Linked DNA regions of Homo sapiens: regions 1 and 2 are each linked to region 3. Evidence: fine-mapped expression QTL. A gene starts in region 3. Each other region holds a variant in brackets. All regions are shown on one strand. Distances are from middle to middle.

Region 1 (11,085 bases), 70 kb after region 3:
TGCTGTTTTAATAAGTGAAGAATTTGATGTATGATAAATTGTGAGCTTGAATATTTCCATATATTTATTATCCATTTGCTTTTCTTGTTTTTGGTAAATTACTTAATGTGGTATTTGCCTGTTTTTTGGGGTGGATGTCAGTCTTTTTTCATGTTAGTTTCTTCTTAAAAGGAAACTATCCTTTTGAAGTTGTGGTTCTTTCCCCTAATTTGTCATATACTGTTACTGTCATTTAATTGTTAGATGTTATAACAGTTCTCAGCTGTGCTATCAAATCACAGATGTGCATTTAACTTGTATAAATTGAGCAGTACTTGCTTGGAAAACATAACCATATTAATAGTGTAGGATTCCAGCTGTTCTGCTGGGCTGGCATATTTCCACAGGCCATGGACACAGCTAGCCGCATTGCCACTGCATGGGTCACAGCCTCCTGCAGGTGCGTTCGAGGGACAAGCTGTGGGAGCTGGGCAGGTAAGCAGGGATGGCTTACATTGCTGGGGAGAGATTGAAAGGTTAATGGAGGGTATAAGGACAGAATAAAGACAATTTTGAGGCACTGATCAGTTATTTACAGAAGATCGGACAACACCAAACAGAGATGAGAAGAGAAATCATAGATCTCCACTTTGGAATGGTATTTTTGAATACAGTTTCTATCAGGGGGCCTTCCAAAAGTAGGGATGCCACTCCTGTGAGATTAAGTTACATTCTGATGCCTTCATTACAATGAAGTAGATAATTCAGGACCCCAGGAGCCTAAAGCCAGGTAGTAAGTTTCACTTGCCCATCGCTCCTGTGAAAGGCAATGCCAGACACTCTCAAGATAGAATCTCCAGTCATTCTCGGACCTGTTCTCAGTCTGCGCTGCTCACTCAGGGCTGGTGTCTCTTGACACCCAGTTACAACTTCCTTTTGCCTATTTTGAGTCAAAAAGTCACATTCCTCACCTAATTTATGAATACACACAAATTGGAAAGCCATGCAGTAGCCTCTCAGGAGCAGACCGATTTGTAGCTGTCGTGGTTTACTGCATGACGTACAGGCTCTCTGTATGCACTGTGTGTGCGTACTGTACAGGGCTGTACACAGCAAACTGTGTCTACTTTATGGAAAAAATTTAACCATCTGTGAACAGTTTTTTGCCTTAAGTGCTGCTTTTAGAACCAAACTGTCATATAAGATTTATCAGCTCTTTTAACACCTTTGTAGATTCCTGATGCTGTGTACAAAATCATGTCATCTATGAATAGACAGTTTCACTTCTTCCTCTCAGTCTAGATGTCCTTTATTCTTTCTTACCCCGTTTCGCTGGCTAGAATCTCTAGTACAATGTTGAATAGCAGTGCGAGAGTGAACATCCTTGTCTTGTTCCTCATCTTAGGGGAAAGCTTTCAGTCTCACCATTAACTATGATGTTAACCCTGGGTTTTCCATACATACCCTCTATTAGGTTGGGGAGGTTCCCTTCTATTCCTAGTTTGTTTTTATCGTGAAAGGGTGTGGATTTTGTCAAATGCTTTTTCTGCATCTCTTAAGATAATGTAGTTTTTGGCCTTCATAAGATCATGTGCTGTTATTACATTGACTGATTTCTATATCTTGAACCAACCTTGCATTCTTGGGTCAAAGCCCACTAAGTCATGGTTTATGATACCTTTTATACATAGCTGTTAGATTTGGTGTGCTGGAACAGCCAGCCCTCTGTATCCACGGGGGATTGGTTCCAAGACCCCCACCCCCACCCCACCTGCCACCCACCACCTTGTGATCTCTTGGGTTTTGGTGTCCATCTCATAGGATAAGCTTAGAAAGTGTTCCCTCTTCTGTGTTTTGGAAGTGTTTGTGGTGGTTTCTTGTTAATTCTTCTTTAAATGTTTGAGAGAACTCCATATAAGATTTGAAGTCACTGAGAAGCTTCAATTATCCTTTAAGAGGATAAGACCATTTTCTCCAGAGATGCCTTTTAATGGTTTTTCTTTTCATTGCGAAGGCCTAACTTAGTAGATAAGTGGACTGTGAAACCTAGTCTGTTCTGCTTATCTTCAGAATTATCAAAAGGAAGGGGTGCTGCCCTCTGAGAAAAGTCAGAAGCAAGCCTGCCTTATGAAACTCGACTTTTTAATCTCCCTCTCTTCATTATGATGTGTGCACGTGATGGACACCACTCACCTCCCTTTAGTCCCTATCAAATGCTACCCAATGGCAAAGCCAAGGGATTAGCAACAGGTAGGAGGAAAAAGAAGGACCTGCATACATGACTAACCAGCACCAGCCATTGGGGCCCTCTATGGCTGACACCAGCATCCACCCTGCACTCATATGTATCTCAACAGAATTGCTGCTTCTGTCTTCACTCAAGCCCCACTCCTTATCCCTTCCTGTTGTTTCTGCATAGAGGAGGCAGACCCTCAACTTTGGAAAGCAGTGTCCCCCCGCGTCCCATGGGCTAAATGCCACTGAGCCGGTAGGAGCTGCTCAGGTGTAGCCTCTGCCTTCAGAATTTCAGCAGGAACTGCATCATTGTGTGCCTAAAAAGCCCTGGCTCACAGCATGAGACAGTGTGTTCTAGGTGGTAACGTGGCACCTGCACATGCACCCCCAGCAGTCCTCTCTAAACTCAGGCAGTGTATGGCTGCTGCCATTCTCGCCCTCAGCATCTGTGAGATGAAGGAGTTGCTCCCCAGGGCACCTGCCCCAATACAGGCCACGTGGATCTGCCATTGCTTTTCACGTGAATGCCTAGGAGAGGCTGTTAACCCTCCTAGTTGTCCTTTTTGTACTTGGTCCTCTTCCTTCCAATCCTCACTGGCTCAAATCCACAGAGTGACAAAGAACAGAGATGCCCAGAGCACCAGCTGGAGGGGCAAGCAGGAGAAGGCACTGCTGGTGCCACAGGGGTCCTGGGCTGGCTCTTGGACCATAACCAGCGTTCACTGAGGATGCGGTTTCTTTGAAATGCTCTTGTTCTTCCTAAGTAAGGGAGAGCAAAAAAAATGAGGACATCTGTGTCAAATAGAAGAGACACCTCAACTGTCTCGTTTTTGCATGGAAATTTCATTTTTATTTGATAATCATTTGAGAAACTTGCACAGATGAAGGCAAGTTGGTTTTTATTATCTAACCTATGTAGTCAATTCTAATGTCATTTAAAAGAATTTGACATGTTAAAATACACGTGAAATTTACCATCTTACCTATTTTAAGTGTGCAATTTAGTGGCATTAAATACATTCATACTGTGCAACCTTCTCTACCACGTATCCACAAGTTCAACTTTACAAGATGAACTTTTGTCATCTTGTAAAACTGAAGCTCTGTACCCATTAAGCACCAACTCCCTATTCCCCATCCACCAGCCCCTGGCAGCCTCTGTTCTCCTTTGTCTCTTTTAATTTGACTTCTGTAGGGACCTCGTATGAGTGGAACCAGAAGGGATTTGTCCTTTTGTGACTGGCTTATTTCACTTAGCGTAATGTCCTCAAGGTTTATTCAAGTTGTAGGATATGTCAAGATTTCTTTTTAAGGCTGATTCTATGGATGGACCACATTTTGTTTGTGTACTCATCTGTTGAGGACACTTGAGTTGCTTCCACCTTTTAGCTATTGTGAATATTGCTGCCGTAAACATGGGTGTGCAAATATCTGAGTCTCTGCTTTCAATCATATGGCAATCCTATGTTTAATTTCTTAGGGCACTGCCATAAGTGTTTTACACGGTGGCTGCACCATTTTACATTCCCACTGAAGGTTCCAGTTTTGCCACATCCTTGCCAACACCTGTTTTTAATAATTGCCATCCTAATGAGTGTGAAGTGGTATCCTGCTGAGATTTTGATTTGCATTTCCGTAATGACTGGTGATGCTGAGTATCTGTTTGTTGGCCGTTTATATGTCGTCTTTGGAGAAATGTCTATTTGGGCTCTTTGTCCATTTTTCAATCAGGTGTGTGTTTTTATATGTTCTGGGTATTCACCCTTTTCAGATATATCATTTTAAAATACTTTGTCCCATTCCGTGGATTGCCTTTCACTCTGTTTTGTTCTTTGATGTACAGAAGTTGTTTCTTTCTTTTAGTTACCTGTGTGTGCCTCTGGTGTCATATCTAAGAAATCACTGCCTCACCCTTTTCAGATATATCATTTTAAAATACTTTGTCCCATTCCGTGGATTGCCTTTCACTCTGTTTTGTTCTTTGATGTACAGAAGTTGTTTCTTTCTTTTAGTTACCTGTGTGTGCCTCTGGTGTCATATCTAAGAAATCACTGCCAAATCCAATGTTGTTAAAAGTTTCCCTTATGTTTCTCCTAAATGTTTTAGTTTTAGCTCTTAGTTTAGGCCTTTGATCTATTTTAATTTTTATATATGGTGTGAGGTAGATCTAGCTTCATGTGGATGTCCACTTGTCTAGCACCATTTGTTGAAAAGACTGTCCTTTCTCCCTTGAATGGTCTTGGCACCATCAAAAATCATTTGACCCATATGTGCAAGGGTTTATTTGGGGATTTGCTATTCTGTTCCATTGGTCTACATGACTGTCTTTGTTTCAATACAACACCATTTTGATTATTGTAGCTTTGTCGTAAGTTATGAAATAAGGAAGTGAGAGACCTCCTACTTGGTTCCCTTTCAAGATGATTTTGGCTGTGTGAGGTCTCTTGAGATTCCATATGAGTTTCAGGATGGAAAAAAAAAAGCCACTGGGATATTCTGATAGAGATTGCATGAAATCTATAGATTGCTTTGGACTATGGACATCTTAAGGTATCCAATCCATAAACACGGGATTGCTTTCTATTTATTTGTGTTGACCTTACTTTCTTTAAGCAGTGTTTTATGGTTTTCAAGTACAAGTCTTTTGCTTCCTTAAGTTTATTCCTAAATATTTCAGTTTTTTTGTTACTATTATAATGGAATTTTCTTAAATTTCCTTTTGAGATTGCTTGTTATTGTATAGAAATATCATGGATTTGTTGTGTTGATTTTGTAAACTGCAGTGTTACTGAAATTTTTTTTTGTATATGTA[T/G]GGACACTAGGATTTTCTACATATAAGATCATGTCATCTGCAAACAGATAATTTTGCTTCTTCCTTTCCAGTCTGGATGCCTTTTATTTCTTTTTCTTGCCTAACTGCTCTAAGACTCCAGTACTGTGTTAAACAGAAGTGGTGAGACAGGGTATTTCTGTGTTGTTCTTGATCTTAAAGTCCTTTCAGTCTTATTGAATATGATGTTTACAGTGGGATGTTCATATGGCCTCTATTTTAGGTTGTTTCCTTCTATTCCCAATTGTTGAGTTTTTATCATGAAAGGGCATGACATTGTCTCAAATGCTTTTTCTCCATCAATGGAGATCACATTTTTTTCCTTCATTCTATTAATGTAATAGACATTACATTTATTGACTTGAGCATGTTGAAACATCTTTGCATACCAGCTGTAAATCTTACTTGGCCATGATGTGTAATCCTTTCAATGTCCCACTGAATCCTGTTGGCCAGTATTTTGTTGAATATTGATTTAAAAAAATCTTGATCAGGAATACTGATGTGTGGTGTTTTTTTCTTATAGTGTCTTTGTCTGGTTTTGGTATCAGAATAATGATGGCCTCATAGAATGCATTTGGAAGTGTCCTTTCCTCTTCAGTTTTTTGGAAGAGTTTGAGGAGAATTGATTTAATTCTTCAGATGTTTGCCAGAATTCCCATATGACCCTGGGCTTTTCTTTCTTGGGAGGCTTTTCTTTACTACTTCATGCTCTTGACTAGCATAGGTCTGTTCAGATTTTCCATTTCTTCATGATTCAATCTTGATAGGCTGTGTGTTTCTAAGAATTTGTCCAGTTCATCTAGGTTATCCAATTCTTTGATATGTAATTGCTCATAGTACTCTTAATCCTTTTTATTTCTGTAAAATCAGTTGTAATGTCTCCTCCTGGTTTTTAGTTGTTTTTCTTAGTCACTCTTAGCTATCAACAAACTCTTGGTTTCATTTATTTTTCTCTATTGCTTTTCTGTTCTCTATTTTGTCTCTGCTCTAATCTTTATTATTATTATAATCATCTCCATTCTGCTGGCTTTGGGTTGATTGCTCTTCTTTTTCTAGTTCTTTCAGATGTAAATTTAGGGTTGACTTGAGATCTTAATTTGTTTAATAGGTGTATTTACAGTTACAAATTTCCCTCCTACCACTGCTTTGACTGTACCTGTTTTTTTGTATATTACATTTTTCATTTACCACAAGATATTTTCTAATTTCCCTTGTGAGTTCCCCATTAATCTGCTGGTTGAGAGCGTTGTTTAATTTTCACATAATTGTGTACTTTTCAGTTTTTTGTCTGTTACTGATTTCTAGTTTCATCCCACTGTGGCCAGAAAAGATATTTTATTTCCTCAGTCTTTTGAAATTTGTTGACTTGTTTAGTCATCTAACATACTGTCTATCCTAGAGAAAGGTCCATTTGCACTTGAGAAAAACGTGTGTACTGCTGTTGTGTCTGTTAGGTCCAGCTGGTATGATGCTGTTCAAGTTCTGTCTTGCGACTGATCTTCTGTCTGGTTGTCCTATCCGTTACTGAAAGTGGGCTACTGCAGTCTCCTACTCTTACTGTAGAACTATCCATTTCTTCCTTTGATTCTGTCAATGTTTGTTTCATATATTTTGGGCTCTGATGTTTGGTGCATATATATTACATCTTGGTGAATTTTCAAACTTTTTAAATTTCAACATGAAGATGAAATTATAGGATGTCTGGGATTTCCTTTGAATCCGTGGGGCTGGGAGTAACTATAAATGAAACAAGATTGGCCGGGAATTTGAGGCTGCAAGGATAGGTACACACAGGGGAGTGAAGCAGGGCTTGGAGCAGATGGTAAAGATTGTTGGCTTTTCCAGCCATGGGGCTCTCTTGCCACTTGGCAGTAGTGGCATGAAGCCGCCACCAGGGGGCCACGCACCAGTGCATGTGGCTGTGTTCCAAACTTTTTGGACAATAAAATCTGAATTTCACATACTTTTCTTATGTCATTAGATATTACCCTTTTACATCTTTTCACTATTTAAAAATGTAAAAATCATTCTTAACATTTGGGCTGTGCAAAAACAGCTGGTGGGCCCAATTTTGGCCTGTATTTCACTTGCCAACCTGATTTATACTTTTGTATCTATTTGACATTTTCCATTAAAAGTTATATAACACTACTTTTTTGTACTCGTTACTTTTTAAAAAAAACTTTCTACAATGAAAATACATTATTTTTACAATAAAAAGCCAAAATACATACACAAAAATGTTACCCATTAATTATGGGAATTACTTCAAGGTAATTCTTATTTTGAAATATCTTTCCAATATTTTCTCTTATATCGCTTTTTGAAGACGCATAACATGATCCCAAATAAACAGTTGAATAAACACCACCCTCCTCTCCCCTCCTGCCCAGAAACCCACCCATCTGGAGCTGCATCTCCCAGGAAAGGAGACTCTAGAGGGAACCGCCTTCTTGCATTTCTCTAGCCTGGATTCCCATGGGAAAGATGTGTATCTTCATGCTGAGCTTTGAAGATTCTTACAGAATAAAAATTCTTACCATATCCTTCTGTCTTAATAGCACGTTTTAAAGTCTCTAGGGAGAAGAGATTTCTGTAAACACTAGTTTCCAAAGAATAAAAAAAAAAATCACTTCTCAAAACTCAAATGGTATTTCCCATCACCCCCACACCATCCAGATTTGTTCAGCTTTCTTGAAAATAAATTATCTAAATTTTTAAAAATATTTTCCTAAAACTCTAAACAGAAGTAACGTCAAAGGGATCAATAGCCTCACTTCTTATGAAAGCTAAAACTCTACCCCTTTATCAAAAGCTAAAACTCTACCCCTTTATCAGTAAGTAAGTGAAAATATCTTTGCAACTCTGAAAAACCATGCTGGGACATTAATTTCTAAATACTTAAATGGCGGCCAGGTGCAGTCCCTCACACCTGTAATCCCAGCACTTGGGGAGGTCGAGGCCAGAGATTGCTTGAGCGAGCCCAGGAGTTCAAGACCAGCCTAGGCAATATAGCAAGACCTCGTCGCTACAAAAAAAAAAAAAAAAAAAAAAAGAAAAAGGAAAAAAGCCAGGCATGGTGGCACACGTGTAGTCCCAGTTACTCAGCAGGCAGAGGTGGAGGCTGCAGTGAGCTGTGTTTGTGCCACTGTACTCCTGACTGGGCAACAGTGTGAGACCCTGTCTCAAAAAATACATAAATATTTAAGTATCCACCCGAACTGACAGCCTTATAGTACCGGGGTGGGGGGCGGTCACTGTTACTGTCAGACACACTTGAAAAAGATGAAACCACTCACTGGTAAGATAACAGTTGGTCACCAAAAGGCAAAGATGCCAGCATGATGATGATAAGCTTCAAACATAATCAGAAACCCAGTGGATGGAGATTTGCCATGAAACAGCAGGTCTTGGAGATACAGTAACCAAAACTTAGAGAATGGAATACCTCATAAAGGTGACATGCCCTTCAGTGGTGATGAAACCAGTCTTTGAATCAGAGAAAGGCACAAAGGAAAGCAGCATGTTCCCAAGGCACACATGCCAGGAGAAAACAAGCCCACCAGCAGGAGGCCTGCCTTTAACACTCACCTGCTGGTGTGAGAGCAGACGAGGCTGCAGCCACATCAACCCTGGCTCTCCTATGTAACATTCACTCAGGACTGCCCGTGCCCCTCCAACGGGCTCAGCGCCATTCATGTTGCTTATCTGTTAACCTCTTCCCCAAACCCTGCTCTTCCAGCAGACGGCGCACACACTGTGCCACACGTGTGGCTGAAAGGATAGCCATGCGTGGGGATAGCCGGAGGTGCGGTCGCTCCCCAATTACTACATTTTCCCTCTAAAAACTTAAGTGTCACATTTCAAAACACCAGCTTCTTTAGCAAACCGGTTTTTCTGTACATAACCCAGACAGGCACCTCTCTGGGGCCCCCATGTCTACACAGAGTTGGGCACTGCCCTGGACTCTCATCTACCTGATGGACAGCTGGTGCAACTTTATCAGCTGTCAGCCTTAAATGAAGAGGCTCAGAAAATACGGGGAAGTGTCTAGCACATTCAAGCACACATTTTGAGGATGGCCACCTGGGGGATGGGCTCTACACAAACAGGGTCAGCGTTCCACAGTGGAAAGTTAAGGCTTCACTCATATAGGCAGGAGCCGAGATATCGCAGAGTCTTGCCGTTTTCCACAGACCAGTGTGTGCGCTATGGCAATATGACCCATTACAGATGGCTGCACTCCACAAAGTGAGGAGCAGTGATCTCAGGGGCCTCATCTCTGATGCATTTGGTCGTTTATAGGGAAAGAAAGGCAGAGGTTGCAGCTGTATGCTCCGTGGCTCCAGCTGCATAGCTGCATTCCTTCCAAGACTCAATATTTTTTGAGTGCTTTTTTAAATTTTAGTTTCAGGGGGCACATGTGCCCCTTTGCTACATGGGTATGTTGCATGGTGTGGGGTCTGGGTTACTTTTGAACTCATCACCCAAACAGCGAATGTAGTGCTCAATAGGTAGCTTTTCAACCCTTGTCCCCTTTCTCCTTCCCTCCTCCCTTTTGGAGGCCAGAGTAAAGTTCCAATGGCTTGAAGTTTGAATTAAGTTTGACTTACTGAGTTTCACACAGCTTTATAACCAAAGGTCACACAATCATGCTACCCCTTAGTGAGGAAAGCAAGGGGCTCTGTAGCATCTTGGCTGTTATGTGAGCCACGTGCACTAATGCAGCCTTCATTCAAGCTCTCCTCTCCTTCCTCCTCAATTCAGCATCTACCGAGGGGAAGGCGATGGTCTGTGACACAGGTCACACTTAACAGGATCCCTGTAGCATGGAAACAGAGCAGTGTCGTCTGATCTCAAGGTGGTTAGGATGTTTCCAATTCCCATGCAAATTTTTTTACTAGTTCCTCCCACAAAGCTGCTTACATTTGCAGGCGGGTTGGGGGGTGGAATCAAATGGTCTCACCTGCATTTTCACTGCTATGACCTCTTTTCTGGATCTGAGAGGGAGTACAGCAGGTACCTGTCCCAGGTGGCGGGCCACATCCCTGGCTCTCTGCTTGCAGAAGAGGTGCCAGGACACAGCCCTCGAGAAGCGTAGAGAGGGCACAACTGAGAGATGCTTAAGGAATAAGGGGAGCCAGGTTAAAGATCCAGTTGTTACCACCTGAGCCTAATGTTACCACTAATGGTGGATGTCAGACACTATGTGGCCCTGCTGTGCACAGGGGCCCAGGAGCTGCCCCGAAAGGAAGCAGCAGCTTGGATTAACCGAGCCTTTAGATCCAATTTCTTGTTTGTAGGCAGTGCTAAGGATGGAGGAGTGAGTTGAACACCTCAAACAGCAGTGTGTTCAGGAAAAGCTGCGAGGGAAGGGAGACAGGGGGCTCCTGTTTCCAACATCAAAAGATTTCAGAGATAGAACAGCCATATATGATGCACGATCATGGTTTTGGGAAAAAACAGCTAAAAGGTACATTCCAGACAATTGGGAACATATATATATGTATTAGATGATACAGGAAATTAATTTTGTTAGGTGTGCCAATCATATTTACTTATGCAGGCAGCATCATTTTTTTTTTTTAGAAATATATGTTGAAGTACTTGGGGGTGATACGGTGTCCGTAATTTACTTTTAAATGGTTAAATATATGTATGGACACACAAAGCAAATATGACAAATACAACCATTATTGAATCGCAGTAGCTGAGTTTATGGATGTCCATTGTACTACATACTTTTGCATAGATTTTATTTTTCATCATAAAAAAATTTAAAAACTGAAATGCTTGTCAACCCCCCCATCTCGAAAAAGCCAAATTGAAATACACCTGGTTAATTATGAGAATTAACCACTATCTGAGGATTAAGTGTGATTTGTTTCCCTTCCTTCATCCCACTGGCCTCAGGAATGGAAAATACTTTAAAGGGAGAAAAAACTCAAACTGTGACCATGAGCCTCCACCCCATCCTGTCCTGTCTGCTTCTTGTGTCAGAGCCACTAAGGGAAAAATCACTAAGTTGTCACAATGGC
Region 2 (5,000 bases), 59 kb after region 3:
AGCCATTCTAGTGGGCAGGAAGTGGGTCTCATTCCATTTCCCTGATGACTGGATTCTAGAGCATCTTTTCATGAGGTTATCGTCCATTTCTGAGACTTATTTAGATAAATGTCTTTGCATGTCCTTTGACCATTTTTTAAACTGGGTTATTTGTCTTTTTATTATTGAGTTGTAAGTGTTCTTTATCTATTCTAGATATAAGTCTGTTATCACATATGATGTGTGTAGCTTATTTTAATTTAATAATACATTATGGACATTATTCTGGATTGGAGTATTTAAGTCTGTTTAACAGCTGCTTGGTATTCCATTATACAGGCATAACACAATTTATTTGATTTGTCACTTATTGATTTAACCCAAGTGAGTTTAATTTCAAATAATTGTTTTATGTACTACACTGCCTTTGAAAAATAATTTCAGATAGACCTGGAGGCCATTATTCTAAGTAAAATAACTTAGGAATGGAAAACCAAATATCATATGTTCTCAGTTATAAGTGGGAGGTAAGCCACGGGTACACAAAGGCATTCAGAGAGGTATAATACACATTGGAGACTCAGAAGAGGGAAGGGTAGGAGGAGGGTGAGGGATGAAACACTACATGTTGGGTCACTGCATACTTCTCCAGTGATGGGAGCACAAAAATCCCAGACTTCAGCACTGTACAATTCATCCATGTAACCAAAACCCACTTGTAACCCTAAAGCTATTGAAGTTTAAAAAAAGAAATTAAAAACTAAAATAAAATGAAAAAGTTTTACACCTAATATTATGTTTTGAAAGTCATCTTATGCGGATTCTGAATGGAGTTTTGTTTGTTTAGTTTTGTAGACATTTGATCCTTTCAGAAAAAGGTCATATTGAATGGAAGTTGATGTACTTTGCACTTCAGAAACATTACCCAGCGAAGGAGCAGTACGGAGACACACTGCATTTCTGTCGGCACTGCAGCATTCTCTTTTGGAAGGTACTGATTTAAATGCACTCTTGGAATTTCAGGATTAAATTTTGGTGAAACAAACTAATCACCTATATTTTAAGTATAAGACTAAAAAGCGGAAAATACTGTTTGTTATAAGTAAGTTAAGGAGATATATTTTACCAAATATTGGGGTAGGGGAACAGATGTTCATTCAATGTGTAGCTTAAACCAGAAACGCTGAAAACCAAAATGCTTCTCCTTTTTGCAGAAGTTAGCATGCAGGAGGGCGTTGCAGGCGGATTGCAGCCAGTGACCTTTCCTGGCAGCAGCTCCAGATTCCCTGCTGGCCCCCAGCCTGAGGTTGAAGGCTGGAGTGTGACCCCTCTGCCCATCTGAGGACAAGTGCACCTTCCTCGTTTCCCCAGACTTAGCCCTCGGCCCTTTATGTCCCCACCGACTCTGCAGGGCCAGGACCAGCTTAGGCTTCATTTCTCAAAGCCACATTCTTAGAAAAAAAGTGTCCATAGAGAAGTCCTAGATTTTAAAATCTGCATTTTTCTCATTCATATGATCAGAACTTAACAAGACTATCGTTACTTATCTGCAAGTCTCATCCCTTCATCCAGTTACTTCCTGTTCTCACCATCCAGACTGTGTGTCTAAATAGAATGTTTTTCACAGTCAGAGAGGTAACTGCTTATTTCTTTGTTGTCTTTTTTCTTTTTTGAAATAGGGTCTCGCTCTGTCACCCAGGCTGGAGTGCAGTGGCGTCATCACGGCTCACTGCAGCCTCTACCTCCTGCCTCTCAAGTAGCTGGGACTACAGGCAGGTGCTACCACACCCAGCTAATTCACTTCTTTTTTTTGTTTGTTTTTTTGAAACAGCATCTTGCTCTGTCACCCAGGCAGTTATGGGTGCAGTGGCGCAATTATGGCTCACTTCAGCCCCGACTTCTGGGCTCAAGTGATTCTCCCACCTCAGCCTCCTGAGTAGCTGGGACCAGCTGATTTTGTTTGTTTGTTTTTGGTAGAGACAGGGTTTCACCGTGTTACCCATGGCTGGTCTCAAAACTCCCAAGCTCAAGCAATATCTATGTGCCCCAGCTTTCCAAAGTGCTGGGATTACAGGCGTGAGCCATGGCACCCGGCAATTATCCACTTTTTTCTTAACATGTTAATATTATTTCACCCTGGAGTGTGTTTCCATGGTTTGCCTTGCGTTTGAACATGTTTATGTTGTGAGATTTCACCGTGGGGGAAAAAAAATGTTGAAACTAGGCATAAGCTGGTCCTGGAGTGACCCTGCTGAGCTGCTGGCTGCTCTGCGGAGGGAGTCCTCTGACTGTCCCTGGTCTAGATGAGGCCCTGCCTCTTGCAAGAGTGGGCTGTCTCTGCCTCTTGCCTTCTCTAGGTCTAGGGAGATGAGGCTTTTGCCTGATAGACACCATAACCTTTTGTGATTACTTTTTTTGCTTTACATTATCTATATTTGTTATCAGATAGGTCATACGGCAAACTCTAGGTTGTCGGAAAGAGACAACTGCTTTTCATTTTTTCATTTCAAATTACATTTATTCTAAGTGTGGCTTTAAAAATTAATCCGTGGTTGAGCAGAGAATGTAAAGATGTGTTTTTCTTGTATTATTTTAATAGTTTTATTTGGTATATCAAAGGTAAACAGCATCATACATGAATATGAGATTTTATTTCTGATTTATTGTTTTATATTTTGGTATGACTTCTCTCTTTCCTGAAATTAAAAAGATGCAAGTTGTGTTATGTGTTTTTGCAGTAGTACAACTGTCTTGTAGACTATTATCCCTCAAGAGCAGGGAACATCTTGATTCCAGTTTATTCTCGATTTGGTGAAGTCAGCAAATCAGTTCATCAGTAAGATTATGGATATACAGGAGAGAACCCTCATTCTATTCTTTTCTCCCCAGTTATAGGGCACAGAAGGCACAGTATGGGGGTGAGTTGTCTGCAGTAGAAGCCACAGGCAGATGCTTGTGGACAGAAGGAAAGGGGCCGATTGAGTGAAGTCCAGGTTCCCAGCCAGCTTTGACACCTGACCCTGGAGGGAACAGG[G/GC]CCCCCCTTCTGTGTAATTCCTTCTAGGACTGACACCTGTTCTTCTCTGAAATATTAACACTGAAAACATGTGACTGTGTCTTCAGTCACAGAGTAAGAGTGGACACAATACTGTAGTTTCTAATTTGAGTTAGTGCTTCTCCTAAGAGTTACTTGTCTTTTTTTCTCCTGAGCAGATTGTTTTGTACTATAGAACTATTACAAGCAATGATACTTTTATAGGGAAAATACCATTCATAGAAGGGATAGAAGGCTTTCAGTTTTGTATGTGGTAGTATTTTTCTTAGAACAATATTTATCAATATTGGAGCTCTCCCTGTCTGCTGAGCAACTAACAAAGAAATACACAGTCCTTCGCTTCCACATTGTTAGGCAGTACAGATCAAGTCTCCCTTATCTGAAATGCCTGGGACTTGAAGTGTTTCAGATTTCAGATTTTTTTCATCTGTTTCATTTACACAGAGCTTGAAGATAATTTCATACAATGGTTTAGTAATTTTATACATAAAACAAAGTTTGTGTTACTTAACATGTGTAGTTTTCCACTGTGGCATCATGTCACTGCTCAAAAGTTTGGGATTTTGGAGCATCTCAGATTTTTGGATTACAGGTGCTCCATGTATATAAGAATATGCTGCCTTAGTTTCCTGAAATATGTAATTTCTGATTTTTTTAAATTGAGAGATGATGTAGCCTTCCAAAAGAATTTGCTTTGCCATTCTTGTATTTAGTGAACTTTGTTATCATACTTGATCATATCATGGAAATTGAGAACAAGTCTCTCCTAGGAAGGACAGCTGCCCATCTCTTAGTTCTGGGAGGTTCATGTCTTGCCCTTGGAGGCTGTGATGTCCACTTCACTGTAGCTACAGTGAGTGGTCCCATCACAGCTTCTCCCACTGAATATCATTCTAGAAGGCAGTCCACGTTTTTAGTTCTGAATCCATGCATTGGAAGTATTCAAAAAGAGCCATCTCTCCTAATTTAACCCCTCAAGATGTCAGGTACTTCTTGCCCTGTCTTCCATCTCCTCCGCCGTGGGTTTGCCCAGTGTGGCTAACCAGAGGCGAGTGGCCTGGTGGGCCAAACCCAGATTGGAGTCAGGCAGACCTGGACCTGCCTCCGGGGTCTCCTGAGCTTGCTGCCCCTCCTAGGGTCTTGGTTTGACGCCATGACCCACCACACAGAGGAGCTGTGGATGTTCAGCAGTCCTGCACCTGGAAACTGGCACATAGCTGGTGCTCAGAAAATGGCACTTAGGGTTAGGGTCACTGCTTGTTCTTTGTTTGTTTAGCATCCCAGTAGTTTGTGTTGACTGAGAAACTAAAGTAATATCAAAGCTGTTAAGAAAATGAGACTGGGTGTTGTTGACTCTAAATTCTGGCCCTGGGACTTGGTCATGAGCCGACACCATGGTGCATCTGTCTCAGGTCTGCATCTGGTATTTATCACTTCCCACAGTACATAAGCTTGGAGCTCTCCAGTCAGCAGTGCTGTGGAGCCACTTCATCTGCTCCCAAGCTGGTTTCCCATCTGTTGTGGCTCTACTATATTGGAGTTCTTTTTTAACTTTTCTACCTGCCTTAGTCAGCCTTCCACACAGTCTGTAAGTAACTGGGCTGAGTTAAGCTCTGGAGCCAAAGACTGACTTCGATGGCCCTGCGAGGGTCCACTGAGAGGGGTGGCGTTACCTCCCGGCTGTACAAAACCTCAGTTAAAAACTGTAGACTTGTTGGCTGGGTCAGGGAAGCCATGATGAGCATTTGGCCTTTTTATGTCCTGTTTTTTCTTGGTGTATCAGTTGCCAGAATAGAGGGCTGGCCATCTGACGTTCACCCCACAGGCCTGTGTGGACATCAGGAGCAAAGTTGGAGCCAGAATCCAAGATGAGGTGTCCATGGTCTGGTGGTCCTGGTCTTGCAGGGGAACCGCTTTGCTAGTAGCATCCTGAACCAGCGGGGGAGAACAGCACAGGAGGGCAGCTGCT
Region 3 (11,085 bases):
AGAAGGAGACCCCAGAGAGCTGCCTCTCCCCTCCAGTCACGGTGGGCAGGAGATCAGGGTGAGTGAAGTCAGAGGCTGTCTGAGGGCCAGCCCTGCCAGTGCTGAGAGGTCCTGCTGCCTGGACACCCAGCCACCAGTGGCCTCATATTTGGTGGACATAGGGAGAAGGCTGTAGGAATTCCAGGCTCAAATGACAACAGAGACAGACACCACCTGTTGTACGAACAAATTGCAGCCAGGAGTTTGGTCCGGGTCTGAGTTCTGCCATCCCTGCTTGGGCTGTGTGTGTCTCATTGCTTGGATCTCGTGTAAGGCAACAGAGAAAAAAAAGGCCATGTCACCATGGAAATAATCATTAACACAATGAGCAAACACTGATACCACATCTGACTGACTTTGCGGCCTTGGCCCACTCCCGGCGTTTCAGCAAAAGTCGTGCCCTTTGGATTGCACATTTCCAGCTAGATGTGCAGCCCGTCTGTTGCACCTCTCTTTCCATTCCTTCTCCACAGTTAGAGGTGGACACTCAAGGCTCCAAAAAGTATAAGACTTCCATCTCAGCCTTCAGAGGGCTTTCAGTCTCCATGGGGAACTGAGTTTTTTATGTTTGTTTGTTTTGTTTTAAGTAGAGAGCAGGGCTGGGCTAAGATTTAAATAACTGAAACGAGTCATAAGGTGCTGAGTTTCCTGGAAGACAATCTAGGCAATACCGTCGTGGACACTGGAAAGGGCAAATATTTCATGACGAACACACCAAAAGCAATAGCAACAAAAGCAAAAATTGACAAACGGGACCTGATTAAACTTAAGAGCTTCTGCACAGCAAAAGAAACTATCAGCAGAGAAAACAGATCATCTATGGAATGGGATAAAATATTTGCAAACTATGTATCTGACAAAGGTCTAATATCCAGCATCCATAGGGAACTAAATTTACAAGAAAAAAACCAAACAGCCCCATTAAAAAGTGAACAAAGGACACGAACATATGCTTTTCAAAAGAAGACATACATGTGGCTAACAAGCACATTTTAAAAAGTTCAATATCAATGATCATTAGAGAAATGCAAATTGAAACCATCATGAGATACCATCTCACACCAGTCGGAATAGCTATTACTAAAAAGTCAAATAATAACAGATGCTGGCAAGGTTGCAGAGAAAAGGGAACACTTATATGCTGATGATAGGAGTGTAAATTAGTTCAACCACTGTGGAAAGCCGTATCGTGATTCCTCAGAGAGCTAAAAGAATTACCATTCCACTCAGCAATCCCGTTACCGGGTACATACACAGAGGAATAGAAATTGTTCTACAGTAAAGATGCATGCACGTGTTTGTTCATTGCAATCCGCAGCTCACTGCACCCTCCGCCTCATGGGCTCAAGCAACACTCCCACCTCAGCCTCCTGAGTAGCCGGGACTATAAGCCTACACTACTCTGTTCATAATAGCAAAGACAAGGAATCAATCTATTGCCCAAAAATGATAGACTGGATAAAAAAAAATAAGTGGTACGTATACACCATGGAATACTATGCAGCCATAAAAAAGAATGAGATCCTGTTTTCTGCAGGAACATAGATGGGACTGGAGGCCATTATCCTCATATCCTAAATTATGAGAACACATGGACACACAGAGGGGAACAACACATACTTGGGCCTACTTGAGGCTGGAGGGTGGGAGGAGGGAGAGGATCAGAAAGACTATCTCTTGGGTACTAGGCTAATACCTGGGTGATGAAATAATCTGTACAACAAACCCCCCAGACATGAGTTTACCTACATAGCAAACCTGTACATGTAGGGTGATGAAATAATCTGTACAACAAACCCCCCAGACATGAGTTTACCTGTATAGCAAACCTGTACATGTAGGGTGATGAAATAATCTGTACAACAAACCCCCCAGACATGAGTTTACCTGTATAGCAAACCTGTACATGTAGGGTGATGAAATAATCTGTACAACAAACCCCCCAGACATGAGTTTACCTGTATAGCAAACCTGTACATGTAGGGTGATGAAATAATCTGTACAACAAACCCCCCAGACATGAGTTTACCTGTATAGCAAACCTGTACATGTAGGGTGATGAAATAATCTGTACAACAAACCCCCAGACATGAGTTTACCTGTATAGCAAACCTGTACATGTAGGGTGATGAAATAATCTGTACAACAAACCCCCAGACATGAGTTTACCTGTATAGCAAACCTGTACATGTAGGGTGATGAAATAATCTGTACAACAAACCCCCAGACATGAGTTTACCTGTATAGCAAACCTGTACATGTAGGGTGATGAAATAATCTGTACAACAAACCCCCAGACATGAGTTTACCTGTATAGCAAACCTGTACATGTACCCCTGAGCCTAAAATAATAGATTATTTTAAAAAGATACTGGGTTTATGAAGTCCCCAGGAGGTCAGGAGGAAGAGAGAACGCTTGAGACAAGCATGGTCAGTGAGGAGCTTGCAGGGATGGCAGAGGGGCAGGGAGCAGCAGAGTTTGAGTAGAGGAACCAGAAGCCCAGCCCTGGACCCATCTCTGCCTTCCTGTGTGTGCGCCTAACTCAGCTTTCAGGTGAGAGCTGGGGCTCAGGAGGTTATGTACTCACTTGAAGTTGCACGTCTAGGAATCTAGATGATGGTCCCATGTCTGCTGTGCCCCCGCCCTACGCTATTGCTAGGACAGCCAACCTCTACTCAGGGGCTGCAGCCGGTCAGCTGGCATCTACCAGGCTCAGCTGAGAGGGGTTCAGAGCCTAGAGGAGCTGTGGCATGCCAGGTCTAGGCTGCCTGTTGGCTGCTGTCAGGATGAATGCTGTTGTACATAGATTCTTTTTGGCAACCAGAGACTTTCAGACGTCAATGGCCATGCAGTCTCCATGTTGCCCTTCCCATCCTGACACCACACACTCCTTATGCTGCAGCCACCATGGATGCCTGAGTGAACAGCCCTCAAATTCTATTCTAACTCCTTATTTAAAAGATAAGGAGACCCAAGACTGAGAAATTTGACATAAATAAGCAAACCGGCTTGCCTGAGCTGAGTACTGCGTTTGGTCTCACGATAGCTGCCTGCTGGCGTCTGATTTTCACAGCTAGTACAACCTTCCAGCACCTTCCAGGATTGGTTTCTGAAAGAGGGGATTGTTTTTGCTCCCAGTCCCCCTAAACATTCTGTAGGTAATTACAGCACTCATGGCCCCATTTTCTCACTGTGTGTTTGCCACCTTGGGTCTGTTCAGATGGCAAGCTCCTGAAAACCAGGCACCTCCTCCTTGTACCCATGGCACCGTCGTGGTGCCTGGCTGCTGTCAGCACAGAGCATTAGCTCTGAGACACCTCCTCCTTGTACCCATGACACTGTCGTGGTGCCTGGCTGCTGCATTAGCTCTGAGACACTGCTGTGTTTCCCTCCTAGTTCTGCATCAGGTGGTACTGTTTTGTTTTGGTGGCTTGGTTCATTTTTTCTTATTGCAGTATTATCACTGCATAGAAAGCAGAAGTGGTCTTCCCATATTGTGTAAAATCCCCATTAAACATACACCACATGCTTCAGAGCGGCAGGAACAGGAAGAAGGATGGGATTCCCCGTGCCCGAAGGTATACCAAGTCTACATTGTCCTGAGAGTTAGGGACTACATACACTTGTCCGTGCAGCATTTGGGAAGGTCAGAGGAGACGACTGTGTGGTGTGCATTGGAGAAGCGTGGGACCCCTGTGCTCACCACCACCCTAAGCCCCTGTGAGGCAGGGGGCACCTGGTGCACTGTGACCAGCACTCTCCCAGCTTCCTGCCAGGAGGAGCCAGCTCCTTAGGTTCTGTAGGGTTTGACTTAAAGAAAATTTTAAAACATGATTTTTCAACAAGTTGATTGCCAAAAAATCTCTGTGGTTAGGGAGGCACCTCCCTACTGGTCACTAATTCCCCCTGCCGAGCCTTCTGCCCGGGCAACTGCTCCACAATCTCCAGCTGCACCATGTGTTTTGAAAAGCATTTCTCCCCGCCCCTCTGGGGTTTTTCTCCTCCTCCAGTGGTGAAATTCCCGAGGGCACTGAGTGGGTTACTCTTCACAAGCACAGAGCTAAGCCCAGTCCTGGTAGAAAGGACACACAAAGAAGACCCAAGACCATGAATATGCTCTTGACATTACTCTGTGGGCTCTGCTGTTACTCTGTGGGTTCTGACGTTACTCTGTGGGCTCTGCTGTTACTCTGTGGGTTCTGACGTTACTTTGTGGGCTCTGCTGTTACTCTTTGGGCTCTGCTATCACACTATGGGTTCTGATGTTACTCTGTGGGTGCCTGCTATTATTCTGTGGGTCCTGCTGTTACTCTGTGGGCTCTGATGTTACACTGTGGGTTCTGCTGTTACTCTGTGGATCTCTCTGTGGTTACTCTCTGAATTCCTGCTCTTACTCTGTGGACTTCTTTTGTTGCTTTGTGAGTTTCTGCAGTTTGTTTACCTCTTTACCATCCATCCAGGAATTCTTTCACTAGGAATTGTGAGGATGCTAGCCAATTGGGCTAAATTTAATATTACTATGTCCCCCATTGTGGTGGTGGGGTCTTGGCTTGGCAATTTCTACTAGTATTCCATATGCAGTTAACCTTGACACATCAGTGAAAGAAAAATAAAATTTCAGGCCTCCAAACTTACTATGCCAAAGGGAAAAGTTAATATTGGCAAAACACACACACACACACACACACACACACACACACACACACGCAGTCTTCTTTTTGTTCCCAAAAGCTTACTTTATCTTATGTGAAATGTAGATCTACTGAGTATGAGACAGATGCATAACCCTCCCCCATACCTTTCTTTTCACATGTGAAATGTAGATTTGCTGTACTCTAATCAGAGCCTCACAAAAATGTGACCACTTGCCTCATAGCCTACTCTCCCCTCTTTCCCCTCCTACCGGCGCTTTTCCCTTAAATATTTGGAAAAAAGTACAGGCCAAAAATCCTACTGTAACCTGTGTTTCTTTTTCCCCAGACACGTCCACGATTTTGGCAGAATAAACCTCTAAATCAGTTGTGATCTGCCTCAGACACTTTTTGCTTTACACAACAATCCAATCATAGCGATTTATTTGGAAATATACCTTCACAAGTTAAATCAGACCACAGCGCTACTGGGCATTATTTATAATGGCAAACTATTGCAAACAATTTAAAACCTATCATAGACATCATAGAAACTATTCTAATAAATTGATACATTTATATAATAGAATAATCCGCAACCTTGAAGGGAATGAAGGAAGGAATAAAGAGAGAGGGAAAGGAAGAAAAGAACGGAGAGAGGGAAGGAGGGACAGACAGGTGTTTAAATTGGGGATGTGCAAGCAATATTGCCTACTTCATTGCCTTCACATTATTTAAAAGCATGTGGTCAAGAAACACTATTATAATAAGCACTTCAGAAATAACTTCTAAAATTACTTTTCCAAAATATGAATCCATACTATACACTTCCTGTAATGTGCACCACATGTAGATGCACACATTTTAACAAGGAAAAGACTAATACTCATATTTGCTTGCTACACACCAGACACTGTTTTAAATGTTTTGCACACGCTAACTCATTTGTTCTTATGGAAATCCTGTAGCGTGCACCGCCACCTCCATGTTTCTAGGCGGAAACTGAGGCACGGGGGCTGCGGCTCCTGGACCCACCTGGCCTTCTCGGCCTGCCTCTCTCCCTCCAGCCGCCCCACATTCTTTTTTCCTAATTGGAAAAAACTATTCACGCTGCTCCTCCAGGGCATTTCAACCTTCTAGAAAGATTCGACAAGATTCGAAACTGTTTATAAAGAGAACGTGCTTGTGCCCGAATGCTGAGTGTGAGCGCGCAGTGATGCCCTAGAGTGCAGTCATCCCGGGCTTGGCGCCCAGCGGGTGGAAATACGGCCGCAGGGTGGAAATGCGGCGGCGGGGCTGCCCAGGCTCCTGTGGGACCCGCGCGGCGCGGGCACGCACATTCTCAGGGACGCGCGTCCTCAGGCCACGAGAACACCTGAAGGCCCCGGCCAGCGTCCTCCCGTGAAGACCCGGACCGGCGTCGTCACCCGCCGCGCAGGCCTAAATCTCAGGTCTTCACCGTCATCTCCCAGCGATCGCAGGGATCTCAGGCACTGACCGCGCCCGTCCCTGCGCACCCGAGCCCCACCCCACGCCCCCACGCCCCCACGCCTCCACGCCCGGCACTCTGGACGCGCGCGGACGGAGGGGCAGTGCCTACTACGCAGGCGCACGCTGCGGGCGACAGGACCAGGCAGCAACATTGCCACGCGGATCCGCGCCGGCCAATCAGCATGGCCAGGGGCGGGGCTTCCCTGAGGCGCGCCGGGAGGCGGCGGCCCACTTCCGGCAATAACCGCCTGGTCGCCGTCAGGTGCGGGCCCAGGTGGCCGGCGCGCCCGTTGGGCACTGGGGGACGCGGGCGCGTCAGGTGAAGACTGGGGGCCGCAGGCGCGCTAGGTAGGTGCGGGGTGCAGCGGGCGCGTCAGGTGAAGACTTGGCGCCGCAGGCGCGTTAGGTGAAGATTGGGGCTCGCGGGCGCGTCAGGTGGGGACGACGGGCCACGGGCGAGTCAGGTGAAGACCGGGGGCGGCGGGCGCGTCAGGGGAAGACATGGGGTCGCGAGCGCGTCAGGTGGGGACGGGGCCTGTGGGAGGGTCAGGTGGGGACCGGGGGCCTCGGGCGCGTCAGGTGGGGACGGGGTTGTCGCGGGCGCGTCAGGTGGGGACGGGATTGCCGCGTGCGCGTCTGCTGAAGTCTGGGTCCGCGGGCGCGTCAGGTAGGGACGATGGGCCGCGGGCGCGTCAGGTGGGGTCTGGGGGCGGCCGGCGGGTGTGGAGGGTTCATTCAGGGAGCTGCGGGCGAGTCGGGTGGGCACGGGGGCCGCCCACAGGTGCACCGCGCGTCCTCAGCCGCTTCCCCTGCCCACCTTCTGCGACCCCTTCCCGCCCCCACCCTCCTGGGCCGTCTTGCAGGCCCGAGCTTGTGTCCGCCTCGCTGGGCAAGGTGTTTCGGGGACGACTCCTGCCGGCGTTTGCCCTCCGGGCTCGGTCCTTGCCTCTTCGCCGGTGGGCACCTGCTAGGTGTGACCCCTCATTCCTCCAGGCCACTCTGCCCCGTCTGCTGCTTACCTTTTTTTCCCTACTCCTGGTCTGTGGCTCTGGCTCTGTCTCTGTCTCCTCCCTTAATTTCTTTCCATGCTTATTTTTCTTGCAGCAGACACTAATTTTGCATCCTTCCCCTCACAGTAAGCTCAATTTGACCTTTTTCTCAATTAGATTCCACCTCTGTCCTTGGGCCTATTCAAACTCATTTTGAAGACTAAAGAATCTAGAGAACCATTTCTTCCCTTATGAAGCTGTCTCTTGCTGCCTCCAAATCCTTACCATCCGGCCCTAATCAGAAAAGACGTTTACTCTTTCATATTCTGTTTTCTCCTCGTCTTTACGTGTTTACCTTTCCCATGAGGAATCTGTGATTATCTGTAAGTCCTTAGAGTACAACTTATTTCTGACTCTCAGCCCTCAGTTTGCCATTTTTTAAAATGTCCTTTCTGGATCAAATTTGTCCACACTTATAAGCAAAACAAATAGGGAAACACATGTGGTCTTTTAAGATGGATTGGAGTTTTCTTTCCTGTGTTGTATTCCTTGTTTTAGTGCCTTTGTATTTAGGTTCATCATTACTTGAAATCATATTAGTGATCTGTAATAGACGGTAAAAAAAAAAAAAGTTAAAAAGCTTATAATTTAATGGCATCTGTTTTAATAGGGTTTTCAGGAACTGCTATTATAAACATAGTGGTTAGGAGCATGGATCCTGGAGTGAGACTCCATCATTTTGAATCCCAGCTCCACTGAACTCTTTGCCTCAGTGTCTTCATCTTTAAAATACATAATGAAACTTGTAAAACAAGAATAATGTTTTCTACCTTGGAGGACAGTGTGAGGATTAAATGAGACAACATATGTAGATTGTTTAGAGTAATGCGTAGCCTATGGTAAGCTCTAATAAATGTTTGCCATTATTATTGTTAAGAAAAAATATGCTTGTTGAAGGAAAGACATTTTTTTTTGTTCTGAGTCTCTCATGCCAAGAGTTTCCACCAGCAAATGAACTTCATGAAGTCCTTTTCTACTGAAGTATCCCACCCACGTGTCCTACCACATGAAATAGAAATTAAGGGAAGATTTTAAATAGTTAATCATTGTAGGCTGTCTGAAATAAGTTGGCATAAAATGTGCTTAAAATTTGCAAATTATACAAGCTACACCCTTTGAGTGCTTGCTCTTAAAAGTTTAATAATTTTCAGGAGTAATTTCTAGTTTTTTTGTGTTTGTAAATTCCCAAAATAAAGGTAATTTTAATTAAAATAAGCGTATAAAGCTCTAGCAATTCACATTTTTTAGCTGAACAAATACATTCCCATTGAAAGCCGTGGGTCATCATCATTCTATAAAACTTTAGTAGCATTGTTTTCTGATTTGCAAACTCAGAAGCCTCAGTTTGGGAGTATTTTTGAAAACTTGAGATCCAGACCCCAGACGTTTTAAATTGCAACTTGTCTTTTTTTGTTGGTGGTGTTGTTTTTAATCTGCATCCAGAGTTTGTGCTTTAGTTCATGAGCTGTATAGATTATGCTTTAAGAAAAACTTCATTGTGATCCATAGAGCATACCATAACAAATCTGTGAAGCACACACATCTTCAGAGAAACAAATCTTTTCCTCTGTGTTGAAAATAAGCCTTTGGGCATGGACTATTTTTTTATTTCCATGGCTGCATTTCACTCCTTTCAACCCTTAAAAAATCAAACTTATCAGCTGAGAAATTCAGACCAAACTATTCATTTTTCACTGAGTTGCCAAAATGAATTATCTGTAGAGTTTAGGTAGTTGTAAAAGAATTGGTTATATTAATGGAAACAGTAGGCAGGCTCTTTATGTAAATGTTATAAAGATTGTGAAACTAGAAGATAAGTGTATTAAATGATGAGTGGGCATAGTGTCTAAATAGGTAAGTACAATATTTGTGTGTCATCAAGTTTTAAAATATTTTTTCAGCTGAGGATACCGGGATGTACATAGGACAGTCATCCAGATAAGGTTCTGTTGGCAAGATATTTGTTGCCTAGTTGTTTTTTTCTGTCTCCATGTTTTTCATTTGATCTATCCTACAAGCCCTAGAAAATTATTATTCTCAAAACAACACTGCTCACGCTGATCTGTTGCTGAAAAACGTTTAATTACTGACAGAATAAAGTCTAAACACCTTTGATATTCTTCTATGACCTGGCTTCTAGTCGCTTATGTACCAGTCCTCTGATAAACTTTCTCCATTTTATCCCATCTTTTCTGCTTATTTTTCTCAAACTGTGGCACACATTTTGCCCTTTATACTTATTCACCCACCATTCCCATGATTGATATTTTTTGCCTTGCCTCTCCATTCATTTAAGATCTAACCATGCTTCAGGGCGAAGATCGAGTCCTAGTTTCTAGTCAGAGCTTTCCCAGCTGATTTGCTTTCTGCTCAAATTAACTTTATTCTCTCTTTACCACAAGTTACAAGATTGTGGACATATCTGTATGTATGTATACATGCACACTCACATATCTACATGTAAACACACTTTATTATATTACACTTGTATGGAATTTGTGTGTGTTTTGCTATTGTTCTTTTTTAGTTCCTTAGCTAAATTGCACACTTTTGAGGGCAGGAACATCTAGCATAATAACATGTAGTTGGTGCTCAAATGTTTGTCGTTGAAGTAATCCTGTATTTGGTCTGTTAGCAATATTTTTCAGGATTATCCACTTGATTTTTTTTTTTAATATAGATTTCTGAATCCACAGTTTCAAGTTGATATTGAGAGATAATTTGATAATTATCAGAGATGTTCCTAGCAGCCATTTTCTGTTGAATGTGTTTTATGAGACTCAAGGTGCCACTTCAGTCATCTGCTACTTCATGGTCTTTGCTGCCTTTGGTGGGAATGTTCTTGAAAATCATAAAATCAGCTGTATGCTATTAGAGACAGTTTTAGATAACTTTAGGTCGACTGAACATGGGCATTGAGTTTTGCATTTTAGGATGTTCAGTAGTTGTGAAGCAGTTCTGTGAGACAAAGTTTATCAAAATTGTGCTGAAATTTAAGGAATAAAGTATTTTCTAAAGCAAGAATTTAAATTAATCATTATGTGACTGAAAAAGACATGTTCTGACTATAAGTCAGTTTAGCAAGGTTTGAGATTTTCTTCGTGTAAAGAATAATTACTTCATCATTTCCTACACCAGTCAAGAATTAAGCATTTGTGGTTGATCCAGGAATATTGTTGAAGTCTATGTAATTTCCTTCCTTTTTTTTCTGTATCTTCTAGGATTGTATAAGTGCCCATTTAATAGCTTGTTTTTTGTTAATTATACTAAATATAGTTGGGAGGTGGTGTTTGGAGATGTTCATCTCTCATTTATTCTCCATGATGTAAATATTCTACATTTTTCTCTACGATATAAATATTCTATATTATAAAATACTCAAGTCTGTTCGGGACGTGAAATTAAAGTAATACATTACAGAAACCACTTTTGCTTGAGTAATTCAGCTACCTTTCTGTAGCTAAATTCAACGTATATTTTCAACTCTTGCCATGCTTGGCATTTTTATAACATTTTCGTCTCTGTCGACCATTTCTTTCCTGAAATACATTTTTCTCCTGACTTCCTACTTCTCCCTCTACCTTTTTGGCTCTTCCTTTTCAGTTTTTCTTCTTGGCTTATATCTGCCGATCCCTTAAATGGTGATGTTTCTTAGGGTTTTTTTCTTGGCTCTCTTGATTTCCCTCTCGACATATTCTGTGATATTATTTGTGTGGTTTTGATTAGTGTCTGAATGCTCATGATTTTCCTCTTTCTCTCTAGTCTAACTCTCTTCTGAACCATGGATGTATATATTTATTCATTCAGTAAATAAATACTTATAGAGCTCCTGTTGTTTTCCTGGCATTGTTCAAGGTAATGGAATACGGACCTG

Which allele goes with the higher level. Positions count from the first base shown, and alleles are read on the strand shown. Sizes are in standard deviations (SD) of each study's normalised expression. Not every link is listed here.
As copies of T replace G in region 1, the expression in prefrontal cortex of the gene that starts at base 6,402 in region 3 goes up (small effect, 0.21 SD a copy in BrainSeq).

The links.
Region 1: its variant is fine-mapped to the expression of FBXO25 in prefrontal cortex (BrainSeq, PIP 0.95).
Region 2: its variant is fine-mapped to the expression of FBXO25 in whole blood (INTERVAL, PIP 0.95).

What each region holds. Positions count from the first base shown.
Region 1 is chr8:470,770-481,854 of GRCh38, forward strand. It overlaps FBXO25 (F-box protein 25), which reads left to right. Exons shown (of 10, transcript NM_183420.2): 10 at 1-7,198. Among named protein-coding and RNA genes, the nearest start is that of TDRP, 69 kb to the right of the region's middle. RefSeq lists enhancers at 8,278-8,779, 8,780-9,279. The variant T/G (reference allele first, on the strand shown) is at 5,027.
Region 2 is chr8:462,181-467,180 of GRCh38, forward strand. FBXO25 (F-box protein 25) reads left to right here. Exons shown (of 10, transcript NM_183420.2): 9 at 827-970. Among named protein-coding and RNA genes, the nearest start is that of FBXO25, 58 kb to the left of the region's middle. The variant G/GC (reference allele first, on the strand shown) is at 3,014.
Region 3 is chr8:400,557-411,641 of GRCh38, forward strand. It overlaps FBXO25 (F-box protein 25), which reads left to right and starts at 6,402. Exons shown (of 10, transcript NM_183420.2): 1 at 6,402-6,510. RefSeq lists an enhancer at 3,964-4,023 and a silencer at 6,125-6,534.